4 linked regions of the Homo sapiens genome follow. The protein of the gene in region 3 purifies or fractionates together with the protein of the main gene of each other region. This does not show direct contact. Each region holds a gene or a part of one and is shown on either strand. Other genes may lie near its edges.

Region 1 (5,103 bases), on a different chromosome or scaffold from region 3:
GCGAGACTCCATCTCAAAAAAAAAAAAAAAAGTATAACTTATCAAGAGACTCAGGAATACAGGAAGTTATTTCAGTTCTCTAGAACAGCCCAAATGTTTAGTCTATCTTAACAGTCTCTGGCATCATTAAAAAGAACAGCATGCCAGCAGAGAGTAATGTCAGGGAAAGAAGTGGGGGAGTCTGAAAACATATTGAGAACTGGACTATATTTCAACTTCTACCAATTCTCTCTGTCTTCAAAAGCACTATGCTCTTATTATAATCAACAGTTGCAGACATTCTCAATACATACTTAACTGACTTCGACAGGCACAAAAAGACATTAAGAACAAGATTTAACAGATAATAGGATCAGTAGCGCAATTCAGGAACTCTGGGATCCCAGCCCTCCAGCTCCACGGCCCATTCTAATAGTAATGAGACAAGAAACCAAATAACTTAACAAATCCTCCATCATCAAAAATGGCTCAGAAAGAACCCACTTGACTCAGAGAAAAAAACCTGAAACTGTTTTACAGCTAATTTACACTCAAGCAACAACAAAGTAGCTATAGCTGTTTTCATTTCAAAAGGAAAACATAAAATAGAAGAAAAGCAACAAATCCACAATGACACTGTAAGTCAATTTTGAACGCGGGAGTTCTAACTCACTGTCTGACTCTATCCTTCCAAAATAAGCAACTTCTTTGTTCAGAGAATTCTATAAGCTGCTTTAAAATGCTAAAACATGATTTGTAACAAGAGAGTGTAAAAGTCTCACCTGGTGGTAAAAGTCATCATCATCAAAGATTTCTTCATCCAAGTCCTTCAGATGAGCATTAGCAGGGGCTTGAGGAAGGATCTCCTATGTTAACAATGAGTAAGAAAAGAGTGAATCCCAACAAGGCTATCTAACTAATGTAGCTACTATAAATAATATGTAGAACAGTCAAAGCACTGTTTTCCTTAAGATATAAAAAGTTCTTAAAATTAAAAAACAAAACAGTCCAATATGAAAACAGGCAAAAACATTAACAGGCAGTTGACCAAAAAAACCCATAAATAATCATATGAAAATATGTTTACCCTCATTCAAATTAAATATGTGTAAATTAGAATTAGAAGATACCATTTTTCACCTCTACGACTGAAATTAATGCAGCCTTTTTGGAGGCAATTTGGCAACATCTATCAGAATTTGGTGTATTTTCTTTAACACTTCCACTTCAAGAAATCTACCCATATATTTATACGAACACATAATACATGTACAGGAATCTTTCCTGTAGCAGTGTTTCTGAAACTGGAGACAACATAATATCCATTGTTTGCATAAATGATAGTGCATATCCATACAATGGAATACTTTGAGGTCATTAGGAAAAATGAGGTAGCTCTCTAGGTAATGAAATGGAAAGAGTATCTAGGACTTATTAGATTTTAAAAGTTGCAAGACTTTAAATACAGTTGTAATATTTTACATATTTATACTACATAAATGTCTCTCATTTAGTAAAAAAGGCAACCATATTTATACATATATATTTGTTATTTGCACACATATATAGTTACACAAATAGAAAAGACCCAAAAACTTGTTACAACTATTAATTATTAACTGTAAACTTGTTACAACTATTAAATACTGAAAATTTCACCTCAGGAGTTACGTTAACAGGCAATTGACAAAAAAAATAAAAAAATTTCACCTCAGGAGTGAAATTTTCAGAGTAGAGAATTTTGCTTTTCATTTTAAGTTGCTATAAACTAAAAAAGGATTAAGTATATATTTCTTCCATAATTAAAAAATTTTAAATGTTTCCTTTAAACAAAAGAATTTGACTATTCCACTTCTGCACCCTTTCTAAAGTACCTAAATGGCAAACGTTGAGCCTAAAGTACACACTTGTTTCAATACTGACATTTCTACAGAAGTAGCTTTAAAACTGAATTTTGAAAATTGGATTATGAATGCTTCTACTACCAGACTCCTGCATCAAACTCAAAATTAAGAGAAGATGACACACAGGAGTTAATAGAAGCCCCATTTTTAAAAACTCTCTCCTCTCACATACACTCAAGTTTCTCTCAGTAATCCAGTAAAGTAGTGTTGCTTTCCTTTCTCTCACTAACCTCTTATATAAACAGGTAATAGCTACAAGTTTTTCAGCTAATAAGCCTCATAGAAACTATTCCCCATAATCACTCTGCATTACAGAGTTCTTACCGGTTCCCCTGGCAAACTCTCTGGGACAGGCTGAGCTGCTGGCTCAGGTTTGCCAAGAACTCGATAGACAGAGCGCTTGGTCTGTGTCCTTCGAAGTAATCTCTCTTTGTCCATCAGAATATGGTCGATCTGAGTCAAGATTGAGCGTTCAAAGGCACCAAAACCCTGCAACAACATTAAGCAGTGTCAGATAATGCAGAAAATCAGTGCTGAAGGCAAGCTACATTGGTTTCTCTATCTTTCTGTGTCAGCAGAGAGATAGAAAATCATCTTTTCAGGAGGGACTTTCTGTAAAGGACTGAGTTTGTGAGTGGCTATAATTGTTCTTAAAAAAAAAAAGTTAGTCTTAAGCAGGTCATATCATTTTTCTACACACGGAGATTAGCTTCTGATACTTTAATAATTATTGCTTTGAAATCCACTCCTTTAAAGTATTTGGATTTTCAGCACTTGAACACTTACAAGGCCTCAATTTTAAGAATAAAACATTCTTTCTAATAAAGTTAAAATCCCAAGTCTGAATCGTATAAACCCCAGTGCCAGAAGTTCAGTAGATTTTGCTATAGAAATGAATGATTACCATTACATCGTGACAACATCCATATAAATGAGCTGTAGTTCCAATTTCTTAAAACTTCTTCAAGTTGCCACAACCTATCTTACACATACATGCGCGCATACACACACTTGCCTTCCCCAGTTTTCCAGAAGCCAGTTTGGTCTTATCGTGCCATTTCTGAAGTGTGCGGTTCCTGTAGACTGTAAAGTCGGCAAAGCGCTTTGCCATGAAGCTGGGATAGTCCTCCATCTCCAGCTTCCTCTTTGCAGGGACCCTTCTTCGTTGCTGCTTCTTCTCTTCTACCAGCTCATCATCTTCACTAGAAATCTCCTCACTAGAAAAGCAGTAAGAATATTATGTCCAGTGTAAACAAACATTACTTAGATTTTAAAAACTAGGCTCACATAAAGGACTGAGAATATTTAGGCCTTACCTGTTCTGTCTCCATTCAAAATAACACCAAAGATATAAGGATGGCTTTTGCTCTTTGAGAAGAATATTCATGAGATCAATCAAAAACTCGTGTAACTTTTTTTTTTGAGACAGTCTTGCTCTGTTGCCCAGGCTGGAGTGCAGTGGCGCGATCTTGGCTCACTGCAACCTCCACTTCTGGGTTCAAGCAATTCTCATGCCTCAGCCTCATGGGTAGCTGGGATTACAGGTGTGTGCAACCATGCCCGACTAATTTTTTTCATATTTTTAGTAAAGATGGTGTTTCACTATGTTGGCCAAGCTGGTTTCAAACTCCTGGCCTCCAGTGATCCACCTGCCTCGGCCTCCCAAAGTGCTGGGATTACAGGGCATGAGCCACCACACCCAGCCTCATGTAACTTTTAAAACAAATATAAAAAGAACTAGTTTCAAAATATTTTTTAAAAGGTAAGTAAACCATAAAAATAAATGAGGTTTTAAAAGAATTATTAGAAATGTGTATGAACCAGGCCTGCAGTATTATAGGACAGTATTTAAAAATTAAACACATAACCATATTTCTACGACCTTAATCCTCAAATCAATAAGGGAAATGTGTCTCTCTGTAACCAACTGTTAAGGAAAGATGAATAATATTAGTTGAACCAAATACAAGAGAAGCTGAATGTGAAGAAAACTCAAAGCGGTAGGCAACAATTAGCACTAACTAACCTGCAGTGCCATCTATGCAACTGCCATGGCAATGTAATACAACCTCCAACTATCTGCCAGTTGCACTCACTGGATTACTGACCTCAACATATAATAGGTGCTCAATAAATGTGAGTTTCCTTTTTGTCCTCCCAACTAGTTCAGTAGATAAAAAGTGAAACAAAAGATAAGCTCGAGGGAAAAAAAGCAAGCAGGTATATACAGCAGGTGTAAACAAAAGGGGGAAAAATCTTCATCAAATGTAATAATTTCAGGGGGAAAAAATAATTATTTTGCTGTTTTCTGAAATTTTTCCATCTTTCATAATAACAGCTTTTATTCAAAGGAGATGGCTGTGACCAGTGATTCCAATATATGGTATGGGCACAGAATGTTTCATAAACATTAATTAAGCATTAATATTTTAAAAATGTGCTTTTGGCCAGGTGAAGTGGCCCATGCTTATAATTCCAGCACTTTGGGAGGCTGAGGTGGAAGGATGGCTCGAGCCCAGGAGTTTGAGACCAGATAGGGAAACACAGCAAGACCCTGTCTCTACAAAAAAAAAAAAAAAAAATAGCCAGGCATGGTGGCAAGTGCCTGCAGTCCCAGCTATTTGGGAGGCTGAAGCAGGAGGACCGCTTAAGCCCAGGAGTTTGAGGCTGCAGTGAGCTGCGATCACATCACTGCACTCCAGCCTGGATGACAGTGTAAGACCCCATCTCTAAAAAACAAAGTGCTTTTATCTTCTAATTCCAATAGATCTAAAGAGAAGGCAAGCCTTTGTCTAAGACCGCAAAGCACATCAGGTACAACTAAATATAAAAATCTAAAATCTAATCACCAACTTATGTGCCATCCTGACCATCAGGTAAATATGAGACTCTATTTTACTAACATTAATATCTGCCTGAAGAGAACTTAGCTTTTCTTTCATAAATGATGGGAAACTATCCAAATGAAAAGAAAATAAGCAACTCCATGATTCTGTTCTCTTACCTTCCCGCATTGGGCTTTGTCCCATCTACTAGATATCTAGTGTCTGGGTACTGGAAAAGCAACTCTTCCTGAAGACCTACCAATGACCTCAACAATGCTTTAAGTGCCTTGTGACCTGGGAAATAAAGGACAGAGAAAGGACAATTAATTATCTACAATTCTCCAAAGTAGGTGATGCCTATAACTCATGACTCCTGAGCAGTTCTGGCTGTGGGG
Region 2 (5,103 bases), on a different chromosome or scaffold from region 3:
AAGCAATTGCTATATACCACATAATGCACAATAAATTATAAAACAAAGTTTTCACAAATTAAAAGCAAAAGTGAACAGTTAGCATTTATTGGAAAGCCCATACCAAAATAACATCTTCAGCAAATATGCACTTTGGCTACCTCTGAAATTAAGGGAAAAACAGTCACACACCACCACCAAGAATTCCTTTCAGTGTTGTTGTTTTAAATAAGCAAATACATATTATTTCATACATTACTGTACATTCTCCTCCTTGTTTTTTTTCATGTAACATATCCTGGATATCTGGGTATCACTCCATAGCAGTAAAGAGAGTTTTTTTTTTTTTTAACAGCTCCATAATTCTCCTCTGTGTGGATATAACAGTTTATTTTACCAATTTCTTACTAGACATATTATTTCCAATATTTAGCTATTGAAAATAATGCAACAAAACCTTATGCACATGTTATTTCATATTTATGGGGTATGCCTTCAGGATAAATTCCTTGAAGTAGGATTTCTGGATTAAATGCATTTGCAATGTTTGAGATTATGCCAAATTCCTCTTCAGGGAGTCAAACCACCTTACATTTTAACCAGCAATACACGAATGCAACTCTTCGCAGCCACACCAAAGAATGTATTGTCAAGTTTTTGGATCTTCTCCCAACAGAAGAGAAATCACAGCACAGTTTTCGTTTGTATTTCTCTTAAGTGTGAAGCTGTGTTTAAGGATCATCTGCATTTATTTTTCTGTGACTTGTCTATTCATCACTTTGCTACCTACTTTTACAGCTAGTCTGATCTTTTTTTTTTTTTGAGACAGTCTCACTGTCACCCAGGCTGGAGGGCAGTGGAGCAATCACAGCTCAATGCAGCCTTGACTTCCTGGGCTCAGGAGATTCTCCTGCCTCAGCTTCTTGAGTAGCTGGGACTATGGGTGTGTGCCACCACACCTGGCTAATTTACTTTTTGTAGAGGCAGGGTCTCAGCACGTTGTCCAGGCTAGTCCCAGCCCACTCCTGGGCTCAAGCAATCCTCCTGCCTCTGCTTCCCAAACTGCTGGGATTATAGGCATGAGCCACCGTCTGATCTTTTTCTTAAACAATTAAAAATATTGGCCGGGCATGGTGGCTCACACCTGTAATCCCAGCACCTTGGGAGGCCAGGGTGGGTGGATCACGAGGTTGGGAGATCGAGACCATCCTGGCTAACACGGAGAAACCCCATCTCTATTAAAAATACAAAAAATGAGCCGGGTGTGGTGGCACGTGCTTGTAGCCCCAGCTACTCGGGAGGCTGAGGCAGGAGAATCGCTTGAACCCAGGAGGCGGAGGTTGCAGTGAGCCAAGATTGAGCCACTGTACTTCAACCTGGGCGACACAGTGAAGATTCCATCTCAAAAAAAAAAAAAAAGAATTAAAAATATTTCCCAGGCTATAATCCTCCAATGGTTTCCTATCACAACTAAAGTCTATATTCTTTGCCAAGGCCCACTATACACACATGGCCTTAACCCACCATAGTCCTGGCATCCTTTTCACTCTTCCGCAGCCACCCTGTGTCTTTCTGTCCTTGGCCAAAAACAAGTTTGCTCCCATTCAAGGAACTCCAAAGTAACTGTCTGTGTGGACCCCTGGCTCTCACCAACCATCCTCACAAGGCTCCCTTCTCACTTTAGGACTGCTCACAGGTCACGTAAGGAGAGCAGCCATCTTTCATCCCCACAACCCCCATGTAACTGTCCTCCTCCCCAATCCATGACCCTATTTTACTTTTCTCCCTAGCACCTCACCACCTAACATTCTTGATTATTCATGTATTATCTATCCCTAGCTCCCTCCAGAATGTAAGGATCAGAGTTAGGATGAGGTTCTGTCTTGTATACCACTGTCTGCCCTAAATCTGGAACACAGCCTGGCCACCTAAAGGTACTCAATAAACATCTGTTTCAGCACACCCAAAACTAGTCAAGTTTCTCCCAGTTTTCCCACATCTTTTAATATTTCTTCTAACATTCTCTCTTGATTTGTCATCTAATCAAATCTTTTAAAGTGGTAAGCATCAAATCTTTTAAAGTGGTAGCTATTCAGAATTAAAGATGCAAGATAGGCTACCAAGAAACAAAAAATATTAAATGATGAATTCTAAAGTCCAGGGAAAAGTCAATGCTAACTCCAATTTGACATAAGAACTTTTTTTTTTTTTTTTTTTGAGATGGAGTCTCGCTCCGTCACCCAGGCTGGAGTGCAGTGGCGTGATCTCGGCTCACTGCAATCTCTGCCTCCTGGGTTCACACCATTCTCCTGCCTCAGCCTCCCGAGTAGCTGGGACTACAGGCGCCCGCCACCACGCCCGGCTAATTTTTTGTATTTTTCGTAGAGACGGGGTTTCACCGTGTTAGCCAGGATGGTCTCGATCTCCTGACCTCGTGATCCACCCGCCTCGGCCTCCCAAAGTGCTGGGATTACAGGCGTGAGCCACCACACCTGGCCCATAAGAACATTTAATACTAAAATATCTTAACTACAAAATGACTCAACCCATAGATTTAACTGAATTCTACAGGGAGGTACAAGGCATCAGTCATCAAAATATGTTTTTATCGGTACCCTTGAAATCAAATGTAATGAGACTGTGTATGATGTTACTAGAAAAGATGCCCAATCATAAAGGATAGGTAAATAAATGATACTCCAACCATCTGATGGTACATTAAGCAGTTACTAGAAGGCATGCGATAGAGCAGGGTGTCCTGGCATGGAAAGATATCTTGGAGCACTCTCTGGATGTCAAGCAGTGATTCAGGAATTTATGACATTATTTCACTGCTGTAAGTTATGAAGCAGCTCATATAGAATGATCTCATTTTTCTAAAATAAAATGTTATATTCATATGCATACCATAATCAATGACTTTTCTGTATTCTCTATGTCTTTTACATCAAACATATTATTCAAAAAAGCAAAAAAAAAAAAAAAAGAGAGGGCTTAAAATAGCTACTGGAAAGAGGAAAGATCTGTTGCTCAGAGGTTTTTCCACATTACATTGCCAATTCTTTCCCTACCTTCACCCATCAGTGGAAAAGAATAGAAAGAGTCACTTCAGAGAGCGCCTTTAGCCAGCAAATTAGCAAAGCTCCTAACGTCAGAACATAAAATGCTCCATGAAAAGTCAAGAGTACTAATAAAATCGGACAATAAGATCTTAGTATCTTATTTTGTGTTACTGATACTACCGTCAGTTATGTTAGACATACCGTTAAATAAAGGCAAGGTAGTAGAAAATACTTTGAGTCTATCTGAAATGTTTACTAGGTTCTTAGGAGCATCTCTTAGCTTGACGAGACCAGGCGTGGTGGCTCACACCTGTAATCCCAGCACTTTGGGAGGTTGAGACAGGTGGATCACCTGAGGTCAGGAGTTCCAGACCAGCCTGGCCAACATGGTGAAACCATCTCTACTAAAAACACAAAAAATTAGCTGGGCGTGGTGGCACACACCTGTAATCCCAGCTACTCAGGAGGCTGAAGCAGGAGAACTGCTTGAACTCTGGGCGCAGAGGTTACAGTGAGCCGAGATCGCGCCATTCCACTCCAGCCTGAGCAACAAGAGCGAAACTCCATCTCAAAAAAAAAAAAAAGGCCAGGCGCGGTGGCTCACACCTATGATCCCAGCACTTTGGGAGGCCAAGGCAGCTGGATCGCTTGAGGTCAGGAGTTCGAGACCAGCCTGGCCAACATACTGAAACCCTGTCTCTACTAAAAATACAAAAATTAGCTGGGCATGGTGGCATATGCCTGTAATCCCAACTACTTGGGAGGCTGAGGCAGGAGAATCACTTGAACACGGGAGGAAGAGGTTGCACTGAACCAAGTTTGTGCCATTGCACTCCAGCCTAGGCAAGAGTGAAGCTCTGTCAAAAAAAAAAAAAAAAAAAAAAGAAATAGCTTGAAGAACAAAGCCGAGCGTCATTTATGTATGATTTTTGTCTAAGTAACAAAAATAATTCTTCATTGTAGAAAAGCTAAATTTTTTGTTTGTTTGTTTGTTTTGAGACAGAGTCTTGCTCCACTGTCCAGGCTAGAGTGCAGTGGCACGATCTCAGCTCACTGCAACCTCTGCCTCCTGGGTTCAAGTGATTCTCCTGCCTTAGCCTCCTGAGTAGCTGGGATTACAGATGCCCGCCACCACACCCAGCTAATTTTTGTATTTTTAGTAGAGACGGGGTTTCACCATGTTGGCCAGGCTGCTCTCGAACTCCTGACCTCGTGATCCGCCCACCTCAGCCTCCCGAAGTGCTGGGATTACAGGCGTGAGCCACCATGCCCAGCCAAATGTTTTACATCTCAGTAAGAATTTCTGTTTCCAGGGAGACTGATATAAAATTGTCTGAAATAAAGATATTAAAAGCAAACTTTCAATGTGTCTATACTTTATATTTGGTGTTCTGGCCATGTTTCTATGGAAACTTATGAATAATAGGCAAATGCCGAAATGGAGATTTCTATTATCACTTTATTGAATGCCACAAAAATAAATTTTGAGACAAATTGAAATAAAAATGTAACTGTCATACTAACATACAATGGTAAATTCTGTGCTTACAAATTCTCTTTTTCCAACTTTTCTGATTTAGCACTCTTTATCATCATCCCATGCTTAATGCCTGGTACCTTACCTTCCCTCTTGCCAGCTTCTAATATTCCTCTGTCCAGTGCATTCTCAGCTTCAATTCACAGTTACCAGAACAAACTCTTTAAAATTTATCAACCTGTTTATTTGATGGGTATATTTAGGCCATTTTGTTACCTCTACTTTTATTCTTATCCACTGAAATGAATGTATAGACATAAGATGGAGCCAGGCAAGATGGCACACGCCCGTGGTCCCAGCTATTCAGGAGGCTGAGGTGGGAGGACTGCTTGAGCCCAGGCCAGGAGTTCGAGGCCAGCCTGGTCAACACAGTGAGACTCTTTCTCTTAAAAAAAAAAAAAAAAAAAAAAAAAAGAGATGTAAGTGTTGCCTCTGAATCGTGTAAAATAAACTTTGAAAGGAACTAATCAAGACCGAAGTAAGTTCTCAAAAACAGGACTATTTTATGGGTAAAATACATGATGC
Region 3 (5,103 bases):
CTCCAGGGGACGCCAGCATTGGAGGTGAGAGGCCTCCGCCCTCAGGAGCCTCCAGGTGGGGAGAGGAGGCCTGGCCAGCACGAGAACAGCACCGAGGAAAAGAAGCCGCCTCAGAGCAGGGGCCGCCGTCAGAGGGGAGGGATGGGGTCACTAGGGGGTCGTCAAGAGGTTGTCAGGGGCTTCTGGGAGGCGGTGGCTCTGGGCAGAGTCCCCAAAGCTTTGGAGAGTGACAGTGATGGGGCAGCAGAAGCTACAGGAGGGGACCCTGAGGGTGCAGGGTGGCCGAGGAGCCAGGCCAGAGCCTTGAGCATTACGCTGAGGACAGTGGCTCCACCTGGAAGCAACTGGGATTCCCCCGACCAGGTCGGCGCTCAGGCAGAACACGCTCCACCTCGGCGGCTGTGCGCTCAGGAGAGCCCCCACACAGGCCCCAGCCCTGACTCCTCATCTGCCTGCAGGACAGACAGCAAACCCTGCTGCCCTGGCTGCGGAGAAGACTGGAGCCCCACGGAGCGTTCAGAACGTTCCAGGCCTCCCGGAGTCCAAAAGAGGTGGTGGCTGGGACACTCATCGTCCTAACAAGAAGGTCTCGTTCTAACAGGCACCTGTGCTCAAATGACGGACTGGACCAGGGTCCAGGGAAAGGCCTGGAGGAGGAGAAACTGCAGGAAACCCAGCGGCCCCGCGTGGGAGAGTGTGCTGTTCCGTGGGTGTGTGTGTGCTGTCTGTGGGAGTGTGTGTGCTGTTCCGTGGGAGAGTCTGCTGTTCCGTGGGAGTGTGTGCCGTTCCGTGGGTGTGTGTGCTGTTCCGTGGGAGTGTGTGTGCTGTTCCGTGGGAGAGTGTGCTGTTCCGTGGGAGAGTGTGCCGTTCCGTGGGAGTGTGTGCCGTTCCGTGGGTGTGTGTGCTGTTCCGTGGGAGTGTGTGTGCTGTTCCGTGGGTGTGTGTGCCGTTCCGTGGGTGTGTGTGCTGTTCCGTGGGAGTGTGTGTGCTGTTCGTGGGAGTGTGTGTGCTGTTCGTGGGAGTGTGTGTGCTGTTCCATGGGTGTGTGTGCCGTTCCGTGGGGGGCTGTGTGCTGTCCCGTGGGAGTGTGTGCTGCTCCTCTCAACATCTCAGCAACCAGATCATGCAAAGCAGGTGCTCCTCCCAGGTCTCAAAAAGGGAAAACAGGCCTGAAAACAGGCCTCACTCGTGATGTGACAGCCCAGGACTGCACCATGGCCCGTTTCTAGCTCTAGGCTGGGCCTGCAGTGAAGGGGCTGGCTCCCCGCCTCTCACCTCCCTGGCTTGGTGACACCGCTGTCGTCTCCAGGCAGCTCAACAGCATCGATGGCCCCCTCCAGGCGCAGCAGGATCACTGTGGGTCGAGGAGGTGTCACCCACCTCCTCGCAAGGAGGAGGCCCCACCCAGCTGCAAGGAGGCGGGGAGGGCAACACTTACTCTTCAGCTTTGCAATGTCTTCCAGCTCCATGTTCAGCCCTGGGCAAGAGAAAGGCAGCAAAGGCAGTCTGCATCACGCTCGTGCCAACAACCCCGCCCTTGAGAACCAGGATTCCTGGCATGGAAAAAAGGACACCAACATGGAAAGGAAGAGGCCACACAGAATCCATGCAGGCCAAATCCACCAACATGGGAAGGAAGAGGCCACACAGAATCCGTGCAGGCCAAATCCACCAACAGGGGAAGGAAGAGGCCACACAGAATCCGTGCAGGCCAAATCCACCAACAGGGGAAGGAAGAGGCCACACAGAATCCGTGCAGGCCAAATCCACCAACAGGGGAAGGAAGAGGCCACACAGAATCCGTGCAGGCCAAATCCACCAACAGGGGAAGGAAGAGGCCACACAGAATCCGTGCAGGCCAAATCCACCAACAGGGGAAGGAAGAGGCCACACAGAATCCGTGCAGGCCAAATCCACCAACAGGCGAAGGAAGAGGCTACACAGGCCAAATCCAAACTGGAGACACCAAGAGGAGCAGGTGTTTTATCTTTATTTATCTATTCATTTTTGAGACAGGGTGTCACTCTGTCACCCAGGCAGGGGTGCAGCAGCGCCATCTCTGCTCACTGCAACCTCCATGTCCCAGGTTCAAGCAATTCTCGTGTCTGTCTCCCGACTAGCTGGGACTATAGGTGTGCGCCACCATGCCCGGCTAATTTTCGCATTTTTAGTAGAGATGGGGTTTCACCCTGTTGCTCAGGCTGGTCTTAAACTCCTGACCTCAGGTGATCCACCAGTCTTGGTCTCCCAAAGTGCTGGGATTACCGCTGAGCCCTTATGCCTGGCCGGGTGTTTGACCTTTAGAATTAACATTTGTGAACACACCTGTGCGTATGGCTGTATCTCCACGAAAACACCCAGTAACAACGACCAACCCAGTAACCATGACCAACCCGCTGCCGCATGGCGGGTCTTGAAATACCGTCTTGCAGGAAAAGAAAGCAGGGCTTCTTGGAGACTTGGCTGATTCCAGGTCTGGAGCAGGACATGAGTGTGAAAAATCCTGACTCCCAGACAGCAAAGAGGCCACAACCGCCGGGGTCAGGACACAAGAGCCCACATGAAAACACCTCAAGGTGCAGCAACTGAGGTCAGGAGTGAGATTCAGGAGGGAGCATGGGGCAGGACCAATCCCCACGTTCACACACAAACATTCAGTGATGACACTTGATTGACTGATTGATTTTTGAGACGGAGTCTCGCTCTGTCGCCAGGCTGGAGTGCAATGGTGCGATCTCGGCTCACTGCAACCTCCGCCTCCTGGGTTCAAGTGATTCTCCTGCCTCAGCCTCCCAAGTAGCTGGGATTACAAGCATGCACCACCACACCTGGCTAATTTTTTTGTATTTTTAGTAGAGACGGGGTTTCACCGTGTTGGCCAGGATGGTCTCAATCTCTGACCTCGTGATCCGCCTGCCTGGGCCTCCCAAAGTGCTGGGATGACAGGTGTGAGACAGCACACCCGGCCCACCCCCAGCATTTGTCCCACCTTTCCTGTGTGAATGGGATCACCACATAGCTGATATGGTGCAGGGCGTGGTCCTAAGTTATTCCTGCTAACTGACTAGATGATGGAATTAGCACACTGCCATCTTGCAAGCCCCCAGTGATTAACATATTCAGGTGTTCAGCAGCAACAATGTTCACATGGGAAGAAACGGGAAAGGAGATACTGTGAGCCTTCTGATAGAAAGGACGTCCCATCTGGAGCCCGGCAAACGGTGGCCGCAGTCTAACTGGGGCCCTCAAGCCACCTAAGTTCAGAGTAAACCGGGGAACTCGTGTGGCTGCCCCTCCTGTACAGATTCCGACTCTGCAGGGTAAACGGCCTGGGCTCTTCAATAAATAAAGTGTGAGGAAAAGAATGGACCCTGCCAAGCACAGTGGCACACGCCTGTAGTCCCAGGAGCTTGGGAGGCCGAGGCAGGAGGATCACTTGAGCCCAAGAGGTGGAGGCTGCAGGAGGTGGAGGCTGCAGTGAGCCGTGATGGCACCACCGCTCTCCAGCCTGGGTGACAGAGTGAGACCCCATCTCCAAAGGGGTGGGGGAACAGATAGGGATGAAAACTGAAGTTCTGGTCCTGAATGAGATGGCAGAAGCCCACCCCACCACACGTCCCCCACTAGTTACAACAAAAAGCCCTGCACATCAAGTAACTAACAAAACTGAAGAGTGGAGAAGGCCCCGTGGTGATGTTCACACAGGCCTGGGGGTGGGTGGATGTTTCTCCCACGTTATGTAAGCGATGAAATGGCAGCTGCCGAGATGAGGGAAGGAGACCTGTCACTCTCCCCACCCTGCGCCAAGCGAAGGATGGAAAGAGGCGGCCGTCCACCCCGTTAGAGAGGTGGGGTTGGGGGACTGTGGAGAGGAGGGAGGTGGAGCGTTCAAAGTCCCAGGAACCCCTTCCCCCACTGCAACTCCCTGCGTGGCAATCTTGAGAGCCGGTGGCAGTGGTGCACACCTGTGGTCCCGGCGCTTTAAGACGCTGAGACGGGAAGATCCCATGAGCCCAGGAGGCCGAGGCTACAGGGAACTTTGATTGTACCACCACATTCCAGCCTGGGCAACAGAGTGAGACCCTGTCACTTAAATATATGTATATATATATATATATAAAGGGATTCTAAAGCCAGAACACCTGATAACTTCTGTACTAAACAAATGCCAACTTTGCAAACTCACTCTCTACCAAGCAGCCATCCTGGTGAGAAGGGTGAGGACGGGGCTCCCCAGGGTCCAGGGTCCCCGTGGTGTCCGTCCACATGTGCGATTTTAAAGGAAAATGGGGGAAGCTGATGCTGTTTACACCTGGAGATGCTCACGAGCAAGTAGTGTCACAGCAGAACCTATGAAGATATTCACACAGACTCCTAGTCAGCTGTTTACAGAAGCCATGTAGAAAATATGGACAAAGGCCGGGCGTGGCGGCTCACGCCTGTAATCCCAGCACTTTGGGAGGCCGAAGCGGGTGGATCACGTGAGGTCAGGAGTTCGAGACCAGCCTGGCCAACACGGAGAAACCATCTCTACTAAAAATACAAAATTAGCTGGGCGTGGTGGTGCACGCCTGTGATCCCAGCTACTTGGGAGGCTGAGGCAGGAGAATTGCTTGAACCCAGGAGGCGGAGGTTGCAGTGAGCCAAGATCGCGCCATTGCACTCCAGCCTGGGCAACAAAAGTGAAACTCCATCTCAAAAAAAAAAAAAAGAAAGAAAATATAGACCAACTGACAACATCCATGAAGGGTTTCCACGTTTTCCACGTATGCCGTGACTAGCGCTGTGTGGAAATACACCTCTGGACAAACACTGGGAAGGAACCTACAGGCAGAGCAGCTGATGCATGCCAGATTTGTGGGTCATTTAAAGATGCAAAATGCCCTTACAGTGAATATATTTAGTTTTCCTTTTTTTTTTTTTTGAGATGGCCTCACTCTGCCGCCCAGGCTGGAGTGCAGTGGAGTCATCTGGGGCACCGGAAGCTCTGCCTCCCAGGCTCAAGCACGCCTCCCACTTCGGCCTCCGGAAAAGCTTGGACCACAGGAGCACACCACCACACCTGGCTAATTTTTTGGCAGGGGCGAGGTTCCGCCATGTTGC
Region 4 (5,103 bases), on a different chromosome or scaffold from region 3:
TCTCTGATAAATCTGATAAAAGTACAGTAGTATCTGGCAATTAATAAGTATTAAATGTGAATTAATACAGGTTGAATAGATAGCTTTATTCATGAACTTTTCTCTCTTTTTGGTGTATCAAAATCTAGCGTTCTCCTGTTGACATCCTTTATTAGGAAAACCCTCTGTGAAGAGGATATATTTAACCTTTGCATTTTCATTTTTAATATTTATTGGATAACGGCCACTTGCAAGCATACCGAAATAAAATCTGTTAATATTGATTTTGAGCCTACTTTTGCCAAATGTTGGATGCATGCATCGTTTTAAAGATTATATTATATCTGTCCTATTAGGGGTAAAACTGAATACTGAAGAAATAAAGAAATTATTACAGTAAAACGGAATCAAGAAAAAATAAGCTTATCACTTTTGTAATTTGGACCTTTGAACCTTTTTTTAGGGGACTCAAGAAATAATAGTTCAGTTGAAGACCAAAAACACCTGGCTTTATTGGTTATGGAGACCTTGACAGTGCTTCTTCAAGGATCAAACACAAATGCAGGTAATTTAAAAAGCTGCAAGCAAATACTTTGGGAGATTACCACTGATTACATCTTCTGTGGTTATTCTTGCTTCTGAAATCTTCCTGTCACTTTAGAGAAAAAACTATTGATTCAGTGATGGTACCCGTCATGTCCCTAAAAATGCAGTGCTTTTGACCATCAGGAGCACCTTGATGACAAAACATATAAGATTGTTACTATTTCAAAATGATGTTTAAATTGCTTTTTATAGTGTCTTGTGTTGAAAGTATTCTTCTAATTTTTTATTGATACACTCTTACTCAAATAAGTTGCTATTTAAATTCTTTCTAAAATATTTTCTTTACACAGTGATTTAAAGAATATTTTTAGTACTACAAGTTAGAGTATTATAATGTTACAACCTTCAGGAAATACTGAACAATGATTCTCTAATAAAACGTAATCTCTCCAAGGTTAATTAACTTTACTAAATATTTTGTTTAATTTTGGTCTCAATTTCTCTTTTATACTTTTCTACCTGTCATTAACAGATAACCTAACTATATTTATAAAATATCACTCTTGCTTTTTAAAAAAGATTACTTGAGATTTTAATTAACATCAAACAACTCTCAGGTAATAAGTTCAGTACAACTTGAGAGGAATAATGAGTTCAGATTAGTAGGCTGGGCTCAAATCATAGGGAGCTTTTTAGGCCATGGTAAGGAGCTTGAAATATATTTTAAGTGTTATGGAAAGCCATGGATGAATGAACCCCATGCCCAAATGCATGACTGTTTGCCTGAATGCAGGGAAACTCAGCATTCATCATATTTAAAATATATTGTGTATCCCAGGTACCATGCTAGCTAGGTGTTAGATTATTCTAACACCTAGATGCTAAGGTAAGATCATTCTTGCTCCCTGGGAATTAGAATCTAGTGAAGAAAAATGTAGACACATAATTATAGAAGTAATTAGTCTGATACAAATTTGGCAAATGCTAAGATAGACTTGAATGAATTTAACAGGTAATTGAAACAATGAGTATGATGAATTTTAGTGGATACTATAGTAACATTTTGTCTATGGCATAATGCATAATCTTATTTCCACTAACTAGGTTTAGTTAACTGAGATAATCAGAAACATAATGAAGATAGACTAACAGGAATTTGCTTAGCAAATTAGCTTTCCTTGAGACGACCTAGAAGTTGCACAGGAAGAGATTGGACAATTGGAGAGCTTACTCTGCACGACTAAAAGTCACTTAGTACATATCCCAAAGTGCCAAACAATTTCATACAATTCTTTTCAGTTTTTCTTTTCCCAGTATGAAAGATGTTACTAGCTGTGTGATGTTAGGCATTTAAAACAGTACTTTACTCATAGTTTAAGTATTTAAATAATATTAGCCATTATGATTATCTAGTGGGTCCTAACTGACAACCAGGAGGTAACTAAACAGGCCTTCAGGTAATGAAAGGATGTCACAAATTCCATGTGCTGAATCTCAAGCACATGGCTTAGACTGACTTCATGATCTTATAATTTTTATAAAGTTAACAAATAGAAAGCCACTAAGCAGAGAGGACAGTGGCTGCTATAGCAGAATACACTGTTTTAGTAAACGTTTATTGAAACACAAATCAGGAGAAAATCCAGTAGTCATGGAAGACCAAACATAAGCAATAATAGTAAGACTGTTTGTTATAAACCATAATAGAGATATAAACAAGATGCCCTAAAAACGTAAGGGATAGAAGAATTACTTAGAGGAAATACTAATTAGTGATTTCAGTCACTGGGCCCATTTTTTTAATACTGGAGGATGATATTAATATTTGATGTGAGAACAGTATCACTTGTGAGCAGGAGCACAGGCTTACAGAGCTGGGCTATGTAGGCATACATCCTTTTCTGTTGCTTACTAGCTGTATGACTTTGACCGCCTTACCTCTATATGGTAGGGGATGAGTATTAAGTAAGTCAATCTGTGTAAAGGCTTTGGAGCAGTAACAATGACACATACTTCTGTTACAGAATTTGTCACTTTTTGTTCTTATGCTCTACCTGTGCAACAAAACATGTTGGTTCCTTGTAATTTTTCCCATGGTGGAATAATTTATTCCATTCCTTTCTTGCTACTATTTTGGAAGCCATGTTCATTTAAATCTCCTTTATTTAGGCTATTGTTCCTCTGAAAGCCTTTTACATAAGTTGATTACAATAGAGAGTCTCCTAGGGTCTGCCTAAGAGACTTGTGAATGTTCTAGATTTTGAGAGCTTGGACATGGTGAACATATCACGGCATTAATCTTGCATTAAGGAAATGTAGAGAAAATTTGCATATACCTTTGCTGACAACCCACTGTGCAAATTTGTATTGTAATTTAAAAGGTGAAATAGTTGGGTAGGTTTTATTTACATTATTATGAGTTACTTTACCTACAAAAAATAACTGAATGTTAATTCATCTGACTTGTCTCAGAATATTTTAAAGTAGCCATTGTTGGACTTTTTCTCCTTCCTTCAAGGAATTTTTCGAGAATTTGGAGGTGCAAGATGTGCACATAATATAGTAAAGTACCCTCAATGCCGGCAGCATGCCTTGATGACTATCCAACAGCTGGTGCTCTCCCCAAATGGGGACGATGACATGGGCACTCTCCTGGGGCTAATGCATTCAGCCCCACCGACGGAATTGCAGTTGAAGACTGATATTTTAAGGGTAAGTTTGATAAATGTGTTTCCCTTCTTTTACTACTAAAATCTGTGGTTATTTTTAGATGATCTGTATTTAAGTTAGAGACAGGGAAATTAAAAAAAATCCAAATTACCCAAGAAACCTCACAACTTTGTACACGTTAGGAACTTGGAAAAACTCCAGTCATTTATGTCTTTCAGTATATATTTTACTTCTGCTGATAAACCTTTTCAGTAATTATCTTGACTTACTGGAACTCTTAAATTAAATATTAGTGAAGTATAGGATCTTAATTAATACTAAATATATGTATTTTCTGATCAGTTAAATTCACTCATAGTGTTATGCATCTGTGAAATGAATGTTAGATTTGGCATTTTATACACATGCATGCATATATGTATGTATGTAAGTAATGGATATTCTAGTAGATATCAAACAATATACCAGGAGTTATACATATGCTTTTATCATTTACTCCTTAGTAATACTATAAATTAAGTAGCACCCTGTTTTGCAGATGAGAAAACTTAGGTTTAGAGAAATCATATAACATGGATTTTGTTCACTTAAGTGACTTTTAATTAGTAGAACCGACCCCCAGATTTCAATACCCGTTTTATTTCCACAGCACCATTGTTTTATACAGATTTATACACTCACATTCTCCCATATTACTGGTTATTGATATTATAAGAAATGATATGTAAGAAATTTTTAGAATCAAACTATAATCGAATGTTTCACTTTCATTTAGAAGTGAATTTAGTAATGCAAGTAAGGAGTAATGGAAAAGTAGACTATTAAATATTAAATGATATATTTTAAAAATTTCCAAGTTCCAGATATAATAGTAGCTAACATTTATTGACTGCTTTCTATTAGTACTGTTGTATGCATTTATCTGCATCTACTTATTTAATCCTTATGATAAAAATAAATACTATTAGTGTCCCTGCTTTACATACTGTAAACTGAAACACAGACTGGTTGAAATATTTTCCCAAGTTCTATATGTCTGTCTAGTAGGTAGAGGAGTCTAGATCTGAACCCATGTAGTCTCTTTGTAAAGCTGTGCTTTCAGCTTATCTGCTGTGAATAATAGTTGTTTTAATAAAAAGAGACATAGCCTTCTCTTTCTGTGACTAAAAACCTGCTCTTGTATTTAAATAATATCTGAGTAAAGTGAAAGAAGTCCATTAAAATTTATGTTCTTTAATTTATTGATTGATGCAAGGTTTCTAAATACAATTTTCCGTTGTAAGGATTCAGGCCTCCTTGATTCCAGGACGAGGGCAGAGAAAGAAACAAAATGAGCCTAAAACATTTCAGTTAGCCTTGAAAAAGTAAAGAAGAGATCAAAGAAAATAAGCAATTAAGTAAGTACAATCAAACAAATAGAGAAGAGGAAAAACTCTTACTTATAGTCAAAAGTCAAAGAAAATCACAATTTATGAACTATCGTAGTAATAATTGATTCAAGTAAAATTCATCACTGGATACTAAAGATAGTAGATGAAAGTTTTAGAAGTGAAAGGATTTTTGCGTACTCTTAAATTTTATCCTTAAAAGATATTTCTTAATTTCGAGTGCTAAAATATTAGCTTTACAATGGACCCTACCGTAACTAAATGATCAGCATTAACTTTGCCAGTGATGGACAGATGAATAGCATACACCTCCTGATAGGAAGCACTGAGAAAAATTCAGCTCATTTTTGTACTTTTTCCTCCCAAAAGTATATAATATGAATCTGATTATTAGAAAACATCAGATAAATCCTAATTGGAGGACTTTCTATGAAATAATTGGCCTAAACTCTTAGAAAAAGGAGATGAAATGAAATTAAAAATGACGTAGGAACTGTTCCAAAAAGTAGAGGTTGAAGTG

The links. Proteins that work in one complex are often made in the same cells at the same time.
Region 1: the proteins of RTEL1 (region 3) and AATF purify together in Homo sapiens (affinity purification with mass spectrometry, with the first as the bait; one large-scale study listed by BioGRID). This does not show direct contact.
Region 2: the proteins of RTEL1 (region 3) and CCNYL1 purify together in Homo sapiens (affinity purification with mass spectrometry, with the first as the bait; one large-scale study listed by BioGRID). This does not show direct contact.
Region 4: the proteins of RTEL1 (region 3) and WDFY3 purify together in Homo sapiens (affinity purification with mass spectrometry, with the first as the bait; one large-scale study listed by BioGRID). This does not show direct contact.

The regions. Positions count from the first base shown.
Region 1 is NC_000017.11:36,986,516-36,991,618, reverse strand, and holds part of AATF (protein AATF), read right to left. Parts: intron 5,003-5,103; coding exon 4,888-5,002; intron 3,101-4,887; coding exon 2,899-3,100; intron 2,373-2,898; coding exon 2,208-2,372; intron 846-2,207; coding exon 762-845; intron 1-761. UniProt on the Homo sapiens protein: Part of the small subunit (SSU) processome, first precursor of the small eukaryotic ribosomal subunit.
Region 2 is NC_000002.12:207,714,202-207,719,304, reverse strand, and holds part of CCNYL1 (cyclin-Y-like protein 1), read right to left. Parts: intron 1-5,103. UniProt on the Homo sapiens protein: Key regulator of Wnt signaling implicated in various biological processes including male fertility, embryonic neurogenesis and cortex development. Activates the cyclin-dependent kinase CDK16, and promotes sperm maturation.
Region 3 is NC_000020.11:63,674,519-63,679,621, reverse strand, and holds part of RTEL1 (regulator of telomere elongation helicase 1), read right to left. Parts: intron 1,979-5,103; exon of another isoform or gene 1,478-1,978; coding exon 1,439-1,477; exon of another isoform or gene 1,355-1,438; coding exon 1,276-1,354; exon of another isoform or gene 1,247-1,275; intron 1-1,246. UniProt on the Homo sapiens protein: A probable ATP-dependent DNA helicase implicated in telomere-length regulation, DNA repair and the maintenance of genomic stability. Acts as an anti-recombinase to counteract toxic recombination and limit crossover during meiosis.
Region 4 is NC_000004.12:84,815,526-84,820,628, reverse strand, and holds part of WDFY3 (WD repeat and FYVE domain-containing protein 3), read left to right. Parts: intron 1-442; coding exon 443-544; intron 545-3,043; coding exon 3,044-3,237; intron 3,238-5,103. UniProt on the Homo sapiens protein: Required for selective macroautophagy (aggrephagy). Acts as an adapter protein by linking specific proteins destined for degradation to the core autophagic machinery members, such as the ATG5-ATG12-ATG16L E3-like ligase, SQSTM1 and LC3.